Homo sapiens: one gene and its partner. The protein of the gene in region 2 interacts with the protein of the main gene of each other region in a biochemical or structural test. Each region holds a gene or a part of one and is shown on either strand. Other genes may lie near its edges.

Region 1 (5,115 bases), on a different chromosome or scaffold from region 2:
CATCTGGACCTCCTCCAACTTCTAAAAAGCTTTCTCTTGAATTTGGCCAATGGGCATCCCTGCTGAGCCCACCTTTAGTCCAGATGTTACCTTTCTGGATGTTCATTCATGCATATAGCTGCAAACGTTTTCCAACAGCTTGATATTGCTAGGCACTGTGCTGGGTCCTGAATCAATGGGTGATAAGGGTAATCCCACTTTCAGCAGAGACACTGACAGCCCCTACTTGACATGGTCCTGGGTTCTCTCATTCCCCTTGTCTCTCCCCACTGAACCTGCACTAACTGTCCTATGTCCCTCTTTAAGTGTAGGCCCAGAATTGATGTTGCAGTCTAATGTATAACAAATAAGTCCTCGTTTGTGACCTGTTTCAGAAAATGCAACCTAAGATTGGGCAGTCATGTCACCTTCCCGTTTAATTTTCTGTCCATATGAGGCAAAATAGCTTAAGATTAAGAAAAAGCTTTTGGAATTAACTAGCCCTGGAACAAGCATTTGTTGCACCTCTTACGCTGCAGAGCTGGGCAAATTGTTCAATCTGTCAAGACATTTTTTTAAGTGTACCGTAGGGGCAGTTGGAAGGAGTAATGAGGCAGTGTGTATACAGCACCTGACCTAGTCATGGCTCATTAAAAGCTGCTATTCTACATCTCATTGCTGTCATCTCCAAAACGCTGAAGTCTTTTCACATGTGCTGCTGCTCCATCAAACTCCCAGATGTTTTGGGGAGGACTGGATGGAGGTCCTAACACCTTCAAGATCTAACCCGTCACCTCAGCCTGTTCTTTGGCATCCTGGATGTGTCACATAACCTATTGTCATCTCAGCCCCATGGCATTTGGAGCTGAGATCAGGATAGCTTCTGTATCCTCATCTGAGTAAAGTATGACCAAGTAAGTTCAAGGGCCGCAGCCTGGGGTTTAATCCTGCGACCTCCCTTCTAGACGAGCATCCATTTTTTAATTAGTACTGTTTGGCTGTGCTTATTCAATGAGTCATGAGTCATAAACTTGTAACATCTCCAGATTGTTTTATGAAGTCATATCAGGATGAAATTCTGCCTACCTACTATTTCTGTATTATCTTCTTTAGGAAACATGCCATGTGGCTACAGAACATGAAAAAACCATTTTTTTTTTCCATAAAGTTTCTACATATAACATGCTTCCTGCAGAAGTTTGTAATTCACATATTCTAGCACTAATTATAATCAGGTAATATTATGACTTTCTCCAACAGAATAATAGTTTAACATTTTTTTGTGAGAAGATAATGATGTTTTACTCAGTAAAATGAGTTTAAAATTACAAGTTAGAAAAGTTTATCTAGTTGTTTCTATATAGCATTAATCTGGGCTGCTTTGTCAAAAATTTATTTTATTTTTGAATCAGGGTGTCACTCTGTCACCCAGGCTAGTGGCGTGATCACAGCTCACTGCAGCCTTGAACTCCTGGGACTGCAGTTGTGCACCACCATGCCCGGCTTTTTGTATTTATTTATTTTTTTGTAGAGACTGGGTACTCTCATGTTGCCCAGGCTGGTCCCGGGCTCAAGCGATCCACCCGCCTCTGTCCTTCAAAGTGTTGGGATTACAGGTGTGAGTCAACAAGATTTCTTTAAACCAAGGTTAAAAGATAAAAAGAAGGCACAGAATTTGGTGTATTTTTGAGTAGTCCAAAGTAATTTTTATTCTCTAATTAGTCACCTCACGACTTTATTTGAATGAATTAATGAGAAGCTAAATAAACTAGCTTTTTAAAAAATATTTTCTTCTCTTTCTCCAGGCAATGGGTCACTTTGGGGCGCTGCAGAACATCTGTGCTTTCCCTGTGCCCCATCACCTTCCCAGCTCCTGAGCTGTAGCCATCTCTGCTGCACCTGCTGTCAGAGGGCAGCTCCTCCGGCTCCTGCTCCTGGGTTGCAGGTGCCACATCTGTGCAGAAGGCTTAGGAGAAGCAGTGAGCCTTCTAACTGCAGCAGTCCTGACAAAGCACTTTGTGAACCCCTCCGGGACATAAGGGCATCAAACTAGGAACAAAAACACAGTCTTGACTGTGATTTGGTGATTTTACCACATACAAGGCCCGAAAGCCAATTGAAGACAAGAAAAGAAGACAAATCTCTTGCCAGCAGGAGTAAGATTGTACAGGAGTCTGAGTATACATCAGGGCAAGCCAAGAGACAGGGACAAACAGAGAGAAAAGGTTCATGCAATTATGAATATGACCTGGAGGGGGCTTTGGAATTAGATTACAACAGTAACAGAGAGTTAATGCCATTTTGAAACAATTTAAGAATTATGTATTTGAAGGAACTCAGTATTATCATGTTATCCAAAATTATCCCAGTTGCTCATAAGACTTGCTAATAACCTGGACTGGGGGTGGAGGGTTGAGGGATCTAATGGAAAACATCTGTTAAAATTGAATATGATAATCATGTCTTGTTTTTATGATCTTGCTCATGAGACAGTCTTGAAGAGAGAACTGAGTGATTATCCAAGTAAATGTGTATTTCTATGAAGAATGTAGGTGTGTCTTGACTTTGCATTCCAAAATAAAAATGACTGATCTTTTCCATTAGCACAGTTTGGGTCAGCCTAACTGCCAGCTTTCATGATTGTATTTATTTATTTTCCCTAAGGAGATACGGGCACTTTGTGGGCCTTCCCAGGCTGCTGCAAAATGATGGATGGTTGGGCTCCGTCTAATCCAAATGACACGGGGTGTCAGGAGCATTGGTAATCGTGTCCTGCCGACTTCAAAGCCCACTGCCAAAACATCCACAGCACAGAGGTTTGGCAACTTCACATAATCATAGCAAAAGGACTGCAACGTGAAAAAAACAGGCCCTGAAACAGCTATGAAAAGGGCCAGTTCAGAAACCTATTCAGCTAAGATGTTTCGGCTAGCGCCTTCGCACGGTCACCTTGTATTTTCACCTTTTGAGTTGCCTTCACCTGGACCAAGGTTGGCAGCATTTGTGATTCAAAGAAAAGATGCCCAGGGAAACTGACTCTAGATTATGGAAATAAACATTGTCTTCAAGGGATAGCCAGCAACATCAGGCTCAGGGCTAGTGAATCCCAAGCCACAGTGCCCAGGTAACTCTGATGTAGCAGGACTAAAGCTGTCTACCTAGTGAGAGCTCCTGAAAGAGAAACCCCGCAGCAAATCTAGACGTTATCCCTTGTTTCTGTAAAGTGAGAAATTGCAGCTATCCATGACGCTTTATTTGCCAGTAATAATACAGTTTGCCTTACGAGTGGTAGCTTGTTCACTGTTCAACAAATGTATTTTAATCATAGCAGGAATTAAGGGTGATTTGTGACCAGGTGCTGAACTAGAATTTCTCAATGACAACCCCAGCTTCATAGGCCTCTTTCCATTCCAGGCATAAATATGGAGGCTCCAATGTGAAACCCGGGGTCCTTCTGTTCCAAAAGGGGCTAGAAATAAAAGACAGGAGGGGAGGCAAGAAGGACCTGGAGAGGCTGACGCCATTTGGGTGCCAAACATCCTATTTCCTTGGCTCTCCCTTGCACAAGTTCCTGGACAAAGTAAATTATAACACAAAATCCACAACATTCAGCACATGTTTTCATTAAGCAACTTTAGTCACTAAAAAAAGTGCAAATGCAGACTCCTGTATAAATCTGATTTGCCATGCTAGGCCAAGCTTATTTTATTACATACATTCTGCATTCTAAGAACTAATAACTTCATATTGTAAACATTAAGCATACAGAGTTAAAATTCAAGGCCACATTATATCGATTGTCTCTTTTGTCGTGTGTCTTTGGCTGGCCGAGATCAACTCGTAGTGTATAAATGCATAAGTTATATAATTATTATATAAAAAGGGGGAAAAACATTGACTTGTATACTTCATTCTGACAAACGCACAGCGTTCGCGACTCAAAGGAAAACTGGAGGCCGCCTACCCAAAATGCCTGCGTGATTTCTGATTGTGGCAGCCAAGAAGGCCATCTCTTACCTGACCCTGTGGAGAACAAAGCCCCCACATAATGATGAGGTCCTGAATGTTTCTCTTAAATATCAGACAATTCCAGTTAAAATTTTCATTTGACAAACAAAGAAAGAGATGCGCATTTTTGTTTCTGAATTCTACTACTTCCCCTTTCTCCATTACGCTGTGTCCTTTCTCCTAACACTGGGTTTGGTATAACACTGACTGCATGAACCCTCGAGTCTCCATAACTCATTGTACACAGTCCCCAAATGTCCTGAGTCCAGTCTTCATTGCTTGAGAAGTTTCTTTCCCAGCCCTGGTCTCCTCCTTCTCTGCCTCTTCCTCCTCCTTCTTCACCCCTCTGTCTACAATCACACGCTCACTCTATACACATCCTCAGTCCCACCTTTTAGTTCATAGTCCCGGTAATACTGTAAAGGAGTTGGAAACTTTGGGTCATCTTCACAGTTTGAGAAAGCTGACAGCTGTCCATCAAACGGAATGTATTTGATTTCAACCAAAACAGCACATGCCATGCAGTTGCATATCAACGTCTGTTGATGGGCCACAGTCTCTCTCGTGTCTTTTCTCTTGTTTTTGATATGTTTCTATTTTTAAATACAGGTAGTTTTCCTTAAAATGGCATTATAAACGGTATGTTAGGTCAAAACTGTGTTGTTTCTATTGCTTTAGTTTCATCCCAGTTTGCATTAGTGGGATTCCAAACTCTACTCTAAAGTTTATACATTTCTTAAGACCACTTTCTTTGGCACTTTGTCCTTAAGACTTCATGCTTCTACATACACTGTCTTTTACAAGGTCAGTCCACAGATGATATGTCCATATTCGTGACATTTTTAGCATCCTCCTCATTTCTGTAGTAAGACTTCAGTAACTCCCTCCCAAGAGTCTTTGGATCTCTTCCCCGGCTTCCTTCCCCAGCCCCAGTAAAGCTTTTTTCATTCCTCTTGAGGCACTTTTGATTCATGTTCTCCGATAGAGTTTGTGGCGATGGGCTGGTGAATGCACGCTGATGGGAAAAGCCTCCGCCAGGTCTTTAGTAGTAAGTGCCCAGATGAGAAGGCATATGGCTGGTGGGGAGCCTAGTGTTGGGGTATATACCCCCAGTTGGTGAATTCCAGT
Region 2 (9,312 bases):
AGTAAATTTTTCACACACACAAAAAAAAAATGAATAGGGAGCTACTCCTAAAGACTTTTGTTACTTTTCACAAGGAAAGGACTGAGGTATCTTCCCAGAACTAGGCAATCCCACTGCTCCATATTACCATATATTACCTTTATTGTTCTGAAGAAAGCTACACTGTTTGGTTTAAAACCACCAGATTAATGAGGAATCCAGGCTTCATTTTAAATGAACTGGCTTTCTAAAACCAATATATTAATTCTGCCTTGTTCACTTAAAGGACTGCAGAATTTGATCCATGGAAGCTTTTTTAGGTCAACTTTTTAAAAACAGTGAAGATGCTCACAATTCATATTTTAATTGCTCCTGAATAAGGGGACATGCAAGGCAGCCATCAGCAACCAGTGACCCCTACTCAATCTCCAAGCCTCTGGAATTCACCACACCTCACAGACAGCCGGAGATGAGCCTCACCCTTACAGAAGAGCACCAAATCTATGCTGCTTTTTCTTTTCAACTATGAGAAAGAGCCTTCCTTGGCTTCTGTGTTTTCTTTGACCATAGTACTATATCAATTCAATGACCAGTTTTTTATTACTGGTGGTGCCTAAGAAGCTGGAGCTACAAGCTTGTTTATAGGAAAGAAAAACTACTCACTATGTTTCTTTTATGTAGGAGTGGAAAATGGACTGATGCAGCCATCTTTATACAACCAAGATACTCCTTTTGAATATTTTGTAATTTTACTAGTCAAATCAGATCCCTTTTTGAACAACCTGTATGTAAGTATAAAAACAATTCATTAACAAACAGGCTGAGGGTACTCCTATAAGTGAACTGTGATCATTTGGGTCTGATCCTCTCCTGAATCTCTTCTATTAATAACACCACAAGAGTAGGCATCAGAGTTTCTAGAACTTGGTTTTGACCATTTATCCTGTGATAATCTTTCAACTACTTAAAAAAAAATCTTTGTTTTCTGTGTGCTTTTATTTAAATTGCTGACATTGTTTGCTCAAAGATGTGAAGACATCCACTTTTAAAATGAGTACTTAGTGTTTTGGTGACTGTAATGCACATAGCAAACCTCTAGAACAAAATAATTTTTAGTTTTTCCTGAGTAGGTCGCATCCATCTGTGCATTCAGGGAAGTATTCTAAGCATTAAGAATTACTGATGGGTATTACAAGCCTATAGGAACTTATTAATTGACGGGGCTCATGAATTTTGAGAAAGAAATGCTGAATTCACTGTACAAAGTATTGTCCATTTTTCTTATAGGGTTCCTTCCTAGTCTTTCAGAAACCATAAAAAAAAAAGAGCATCTTTCCAATGGCTGAGAAAGAATGAGTGGTGCATGCCTCTGATTGTCTCTGATTCACATGGAAATTTCAAGATCATGGGGATTTTCTTGCTCTAAGAAAGAAAAAAAAAAGGTTTGAATTGAAGATATCTGTATAATTGGTGAGGTGCATGCTAATTCCACCAATTCGATAGCTTTATCCATTCTACTTCACCAATTTGTACATTCCAGCTCCAGTACTAAGAAGCTGACAGTTGGGTGAAACCACCTCAAAATTAATTTCTTCTATACTTCTAAGTATTTTACATGAAAAAACAAAGGAATGATGCGGCTTATTGGTACGTGTTAGGAAGGTTCACTGGCTAAATCTCTGACATTTAAATGTTATGGCCACACTAAAAAGCACAGTATTTGATGTACCAATGATAAGCAAAATAATCAAAAGGTTTTAAAAAAAAAGCTTGCAGATAGTGAAAGTACAGGTAGCTTACATGTGCCTAATACTAAGTTTTGAAATGTCCTCATCTGTTCCCAACCTTATGCGACTGTTTTTAACAATGACATAACCTACAATGATGTAAACATGCAATTACCTTACAGAGGCACTGATTCCATCTGCTTTGTGAAGGGGCTTGATTTCTATAGGAATGCTCCAATAAGTACCAATTACCTAATCTCTCTTTGGGTGATACGAAAACTTTGTATTCTGCGTTATGTTACTCAGTGCAATTTCAATGTATACCTTGAACAAGCAGGCATGACTTATTATTTTTGTTATAGCTGTTAACTTAAACAAGTGAGCTTCTCCCTTTTCAAATATGATTCACTGACTGGAATTTGAGAAGAGAGAGCCTGTGATAGCAGGGCCACATCCATGCCTGCTAGCTCCACTTAAATGAGAAATCTCCATCTGGTCAGGTAGCTGGAAAAATTGCCGTGTTTTCCACCTTGGATCAGATATCCAATGGTGCCTCTGATGGACATTTCTCATTTCCTATGGAAATACTTACTGGTTGCTGTAGGTGAAGCTGCCTCACCTTCAGTGGATGTAGTGATGGGTTTAGTATCTGTCATGCTCAGGGTCACAGGTCGCACTGCACTGGGATGGGGAGAGGGTGCCAAGACAGGAGTGAAATGGCCAGGCACTTTCCCTACTACTTGACCACTGCCGTTAGGCTACAAAACAAAAACAGAATGCCGGGTGAAGCAATCCAAAAGGCAGTCATCTTGTTCAACAAGTCCACTCAGCACACACGACTGTGTGGATCCAGCACACTGCGCATAGGCGCCACACAGGCCCTCTCGAGTCGGAGTCGGAGAGGCCAGTCAATGGTTGGTAGTAATAAGGAGCAGCAGCATTTCAAAGAAGGTTTTCATCTTCAAAGCACGTCATGGTATAGGTGAATTCCTCTTTACAGCACCCCTGAGAGCCAGGTAGACTTGATCCTTTCATGTAGTAGGCCAAGAAACTCAAGTGCAGACTTAAATGCTTAGCCCAAAGGCTAAAATGGAATTCCTTACTGAACTAGCTACAGTTGGAACCCAATGCTTCCTTATTCTCTGCTCTTCATTTTCTATAATGAGTCAGTTTTGGCTTTTAGAACACAATTTTCACCTACATGATGATATCACTGAAACAAAGGACACAAAAATATCTAGGAGATCAAATACAACGAATTCTGGAATTTTCATCATTTACAGTCAAGAACCATTCTCCTGCATACAAAACTCTAGCTCTCTTACACACAGGTGTGCTGAGATGCACACATTAGGCAATTTAGATTCCGAGATCTATGGTCAACTTTTGATGATTTACTAATACAAGAAGATAGAATAAGATGTAAAGCATCTAAAATTTCAGAGGTCATACAATGATATAAAATGCTGAGCTACGTTTGTCCTTACACCTACAAATAAAAGATTTCCAAAGTAAATTAAACTGTACTGAGGGGAAGCAGAGGACAAGCAAATGAGCATTGTTATTTGAGTTACTCTTACATCCATGGTGGTGCATGGAGAGTTACACAAAACATTTCTTGTTGACATTTGTGAGAATTAACTGAGAAAATCCCCTGGGCAATGATAGAAAAGATGTTACTATCTGAGTTTTAGCTCCTGGGTACAAAAATAGTTTCCGTGGTAGGAAACAAAATCCTAAGGATACACTCTTTGAAGAAATAGTGGAATATATTTTTCTAGACTGAGAATGTTATTTTTGATTATACCCATGTTGGAATTCTCCACTGCACGGTGTTCATCGCAATTTGCTGGGAGGCTATTCTCGGCAAGTATATAGTCTTTATAATCTGAACTGTTAAAGGCAAAAAAAAAATGAAGCAGAATATTTTTCTAAATATCTGCACATAAATTACAAGTAGACATTTATTTAGAGAAAAAGATGAACAGCTAATAACACTTAAATATTGTGACTTAGAGACATGAACTAAGTCTTCGGTTAGGCTCCTCAGAGGCCACATTATTTATTCTATAAAGAAAATGGACTTCCTGAATATCCTGATTATTCATCATGGGTAATTTTAAGTATTTAACTTGATGTCAGGAAAATTGACCAGAGTTTTCCAATATGGAAACCTATGGGAGAGTTACATCTTTAAACTAATTTTATTCAAAATATTCCATTGAATAGCATGACTGTCTCACTATAATTGGTGCAGCAGTAATGCAATTAATCTCAAAATTGCTGTGGGGAGGAAAAGGCATCTCAGTTGCTTATCTTAAAAATCAAAATCAGTGCAGTGCTGGAGAATATTGGGAAGCAACAGCTGACTAGAAGTGAATGGTGAAGGAATACTGATGTTTTTCCATTTCTAAAGCTAAAATGGTAAATACCAAGAATTCTAATTTGAAATGCAAATTAATTGGTTTTGAGTTGGAGTTAAAAATCAAAGCAGATACACTGTTCCTTAAAAAAAAAATCTGCAGTTAACTATAAAGACCCATTTTTCCTTTCAAAGGGAAAAAGTAGTTTGTTTCTACAGCAGGCCATCCATTTCTGGTTATCTGAACACTGGAAATAAGTGCTTTAAATATCTTAAGAAAGAAGACAGGTCTCATTTTATCATTGGTGGTACATTCAATGGTAAAAATGTTTCTACATACAGTGTTCACCAAAACAGTCTGAAAGTACCTACCTGGAACAAAATGTCTGGAGCAGAATGACAATAATTTCAAGGAAATGCTGCCACCAAATATATTATCCTACCCTGACCATTCTACAAACTTCACCTACTGGAATTGAACAACATGAACTAGTAGACACTTCTCTCATTTGAAAAGAATAAAGGTGACAAAGAAAGAATTCCCAAGTCAATGCAGACAACTTTCCTAAAACTCAGGGTGAGAAGAATTGAGGGCTATTTTCTCCTCAGTTTTCTACTGGTTCAAACAGATGAAGCTACACTAAAAATTTCTATCTTTTAAGGCTGTTAATAGATGAACTTTCATACTGTAGATAGAAAAGAGAGATGTCTTGTCTGAAGGTGAAGCTAACAGCATTAGGAAAGGATTATTCTACTTTATACACGGTTCCTATTATACAAAATCCTGAGAGTTTTTTTGTTGCTAGTTTTTCTTTTTCTTTTTTTTTTTTTTTTGAGATGAGAGTAATATGCTTCCTTAGAAGGTGATATGTATCTTGAAAAAGTGAAGAAAAACTGAGAACAATATAGGCAGATTATCACCTAATATGCCCTCTTAACTTATAAAGAAATTGAAATATACGTAAAACAAGCACTGAATAATTAAAGAAATGTGTAACACTAAGGGCCTGATTTTAATTTGCATAATTTTTCCCCTAACAGTGCCTAATTAAGACATCAGTTAAAAAAAAAATCCAATGGAACTCTAAGATTTTCCACACTGAATTAACGTTAAGGACTTTTAATGGATGTCTTAATTAGACTTTGTTATTCATGGAAATTCTACACAAATTAAAATCAGACCTTGTGTGCACTGTTCCCAGCTGAGTCTAGCAAAATGCTCTATGGAACTGAGACTTCTGAATCCATGAGCTGACAACAAATTTTATTTCTAAACGATATACTAAGATCCCACTCTCACTTAGCTGTCTTTAGTACTTCAGTCATGAAAAGTGCTACAACATTTTAACATTTTCTTCTAAAATACAAATAATAATTTTAACTTCAAATTCAAAATTCAATATTGAGTTTAATATCTCAGTCAGTCAAACTAAAAGTAATGATAACTTTTTAAGTAACCCAAAGGGTCCTGGATGCGTTGTTATTCTAAATTAAAAGTTCAGAAAGGACCATTTTGTTTCATTTTAACAAATTAAGACCAAAGGGATTTTTTTCTCACCTTTCTTTGCTAATTTAAATTGATAGACACACACTATTTACTAGCATTTCAGGAATGTTCCACCGTAGTAATGACGGAATGTTTGTGAAAATTCTCCAAAATATTAAAAGGTATAATAAGTGGACAGGAGTCTTAGAGGTAAAGCAGCAAAGCTAAATATCAGATCCTAATATCAAAATTACATTACATGTTTTAGATATTACAATTATTGATAGCCCCAGGTCTGGCACAAAGACTGTCTACTTGATTGTGGAAAATGCTCATATACCAAATTCCTATGAAGTAACCTCTTGGTAGAAGAAACCATATGTCTAGGGGAGTGAGAAATGCTCATGAGTCACTACACTTACAAAATGAATCCCCAAAACCACTGCACAATGTTTCCAAAAAAAAGAAAGACGCTTCTAGTAATGTCACTCATTATTAAATGTAAGTCATGTCTCTGCAAAGAATATTCAAGTAGTCATCAAACACTGAGAATGTTTACATTACCAAAGCTTATTTTAATACCTAATAGTTGGTCTATAAATACAACTGTAAGTTCTTTTGTGTGTGTTTATTTTAGCACATACCTTACTCCTGCCTGAAATAAGCACATTGTCTCTGTGTCAAACCAGGTATTTAAGAGGTGTGAACTCCAGCCCAGAGCTTTCCTGTCAATGTACTTTCTGCATAAACTTTCCCTTCAGTCAGTGAAAATCCAAAAACATTAAACCATCTTCACAAATGTACCCTTTGGGGCAACACACTTCCTACCTGTCATTCAGCCACCTTTAAATAAAAACTTATTGAGTCACCAAGCAACTTCCTGAAGATGGATTTCAAGGCTTGACGTTCTGCCAGACACACTGTCTGACTAACCTTTGTGTCTCAGAATTAGATCTGTCCCATCTCCCTTAGGTGCTAATCTTATTTTCTCTCTTATTTTTACCTGGCTGGTTTGTGGACTGGATGGGTCATAAGAAGGTACATAGTTCTTCAGAGTATCCTGAGGATTCAGGTGGGGAGGATATCTGATTGTTGGATGAGAAAAGTAGCTCGATGGGGCTGGAGGAAGGATAGCTTGTGTTGGAAATGGCAACGGTGAAGGTGGAGGTGGAGTTCGAGTTGAGATGACTGCAGAAGACAGAAAAGGAAAGATTGACTCATCAGCTGGTTACCTTATTGCTCCATTCTGATCCTGAAGAATGCTGTGAAACTACAAAACTGGTAACCATTCATTTTTGTCCCCATGATTTAACCAAGCTCTCCTAAATCAACAGTTACTTTTTCATTTTTATTCTCAACACCAGTACGGCTAACTACACAGAGATAAAACATCACTCTAGAAAATTAACAATCTTGCTTCCTGGCTCTGTGAGTGGTTACAAAATCAGTTTCTCTTTTATAGGTTATGTCAATACTTGATAAAACACTTCTTTGAGCAAAGATATATCCCGTTGAAAACATATTCTTTGATTATAAAATCTTTAGGCCGGGTGCAGTAGCTCACACCTGTAATCCCAGCACTTTGGGCGGCTGGGGCAGGTGGATCACCTGAGGTCAGGAGTTCGAGACCAGCCTGGCTAACATGGTGAAACCCCATCGCTACTGAAAATACAAAAAATTAGCTGAGCATGGTGATGGGCACCTGTAATCCCAGCTACTTGGGAGCTTAAGGCAGGAGAATCACTTGAATCCAGTAGACGGAGGTTGCAGTGAGCCGAGATGGCGCCATTGCGCTCCAACCTGGTGACAGAACCCCATCTCAAACAAACAAACAAACAAAAAACATTTTGTCTCATAAGCCCCATCTCAAACAAACAAACAAACAAAAAACACTTTGTCTCATAAGTCCAGAGCAAGTCACAGCATTAAGTAGAGGGCAAAAGAGCCAAAAATTTTCTACCAAAATTAAAAACAAAAGTGAAATTCAATTTCAAATAAAACGTTTCCCTGTACATCCTACCTGGCAATTGTTTAGAAGGAAAGACAATAACTAATACAACATCATCTCATGTCATTTATAATTGTCTGGTCATGGTATAAATGCTTATGAACATTGGAACATAGAGCTAGAAACTCTCCTAATGAAAATGTTTCTTTCAAAACCAAAAGAGCTCTATTCTGCAACTATTTTTCTTTCTACTTTAACTTTTACTATATGTAGTTTAAAAGATATTGTTAATATAAAACCAAGAATAAAACACACAGCAATGAAAATTTAAGCTTTCATATAGGTAAGTATATTACTTTACCCATATATCACATATTTTATAATAATTTTATAAAGGGAAATACTATATAAAACACATGCAATGTGGACAATGTTCAATTTTACTATAACTTCTCAACATTAGTATTCTTATAATTTATTGTTCAGTTTTTGAAATATAAATCTTAAGTTTGAAAGATGGAGAAAGAGTGTAATCGTATGATCATTATCTCTAAAATGTTGAGAGAAATAATCATAGAAATACAAATTAAAACTACCAACAAATATATGTAGAAGTGAAAAGTAAATGTCTTTCTATTTTAATATTTCCCAATTCAAATAATAGGAAATTATAAACGATAAATGTCTAATGTTTTATGAGACAACTTAAAGAATATGAAAAAAAATAAATTTTAGCCATAACCTACAAAGGGAAATCACCTAGAATGATTTATTTCCAACTTTGAAACTATGTGGGTGGGGGGGTGGGACCTATTTATGGGATGTATTGCTTACCTCTCCCAAAAAAAACTTTTTCAGAAGATATAAGAAATTAAGAATGTATAGAATAGAAAAAACATAAATTCAATTTTATAGTCACGACTTTGTTCTCTGAACGTCCAGAGCACTGTTTCTGAAATTCTCTGTATTGTTCTTACAATGCAGATCCCTTGGTCTACACACAGACCTAGGGGATCAGGACCTCTAGGGGTAAGGCACCAAAATGTATATTTTAAATAAGTGTCCATGTAATCTTCCTACATACTGAAGTTTGAGCATCCTCCATCAAATGTATGCATTTCAGAGAACAAATGCGTATTTCTTAAAACAAAACTCTTTACTGAAGTATTACTTTATTTAAGAAGTATACCCATTTGAAAGTATCATTTAAGGAAATACAAACATCTAAGAAAAACTGGGCATCTTTTACTTAGTGTCTAAATGCTCTTAATCTCAGCTCATTTTAACCATGATTTTTGCTCACATCTGTACACAAACCCTGGAAAGATATATACATAGTTCCATCTTGGGTCCTTTAGCTTTTGAGATTAATTTGGCCTTAATAGTTCTGGAGGAGATCTATTTTCAAGTGAAATTGCAGAAATCAAACCCGAACTCACATCTATGGGCAACCTGGCACTGTGCTTGCATGAGCTGTAGGTGGCCTGATACCACTGGGTAAAATGTCGTATTTCAAACTGAGAGTAAAAATGACTACCTTTTCCATAAAAGCCATTCTAGTCCTTTAAAAATAAGAAAAGCAGGCCAGGCATGGTGGCTCACGGCTGTAATCCCAGCACTGTGGGAGGTCAGGGTGGGTGGAGTGGATCACTTGAGGTCAGATGTTCGAGATCAGCCTGGCCAACATGGTGAAACCCCATCTCTACTAAAAAAAATACAAAAATTAGCTGAGCGGGGTGGTGAGTGCCTGTAATCCCAGTTACTCGGGAGGCTGAGGCAGGAGAATTGCTTGAACCTGGGAGGCAGAGGT

What was found. Proteins that work in one complex are often made in the same cells at the same time.
Region 1: the proteins of NFIB (region 2) and ERG form a complex in vitro, tested with the Homo sapiens proteins (one study listed by BioGRID).

Annotation. Positions count from the first base shown.
Region 1 is NC_000021.9:38,378,374-38,383,488, forward strand, and holds the end of ERG (transcriptional regulator ERG), read right to left. Parts: coding exon 5,030-5,115; 3' UTR 1,663-5,029; downstream 1-1,662. UniProt on the Homo sapiens protein: Transcriptional regulator. May participate in transcriptional regulation through the recruitment of SETDB1 histone methyltransferase and subsequent modification of local chromatin structure.
Region 2 is NC_000009.12:14,113,883-14,123,194, forward strand, and holds part of NFIB (nuclear factor 1 B-type), read right to left. Parts: intron 6,743-9,312; coding exon 6,558-6,742; intron 2,465-6,557; coding exon 2,326-2,464; coding exon of another isoform or gene 2,299-2,325; intron 1-2,298.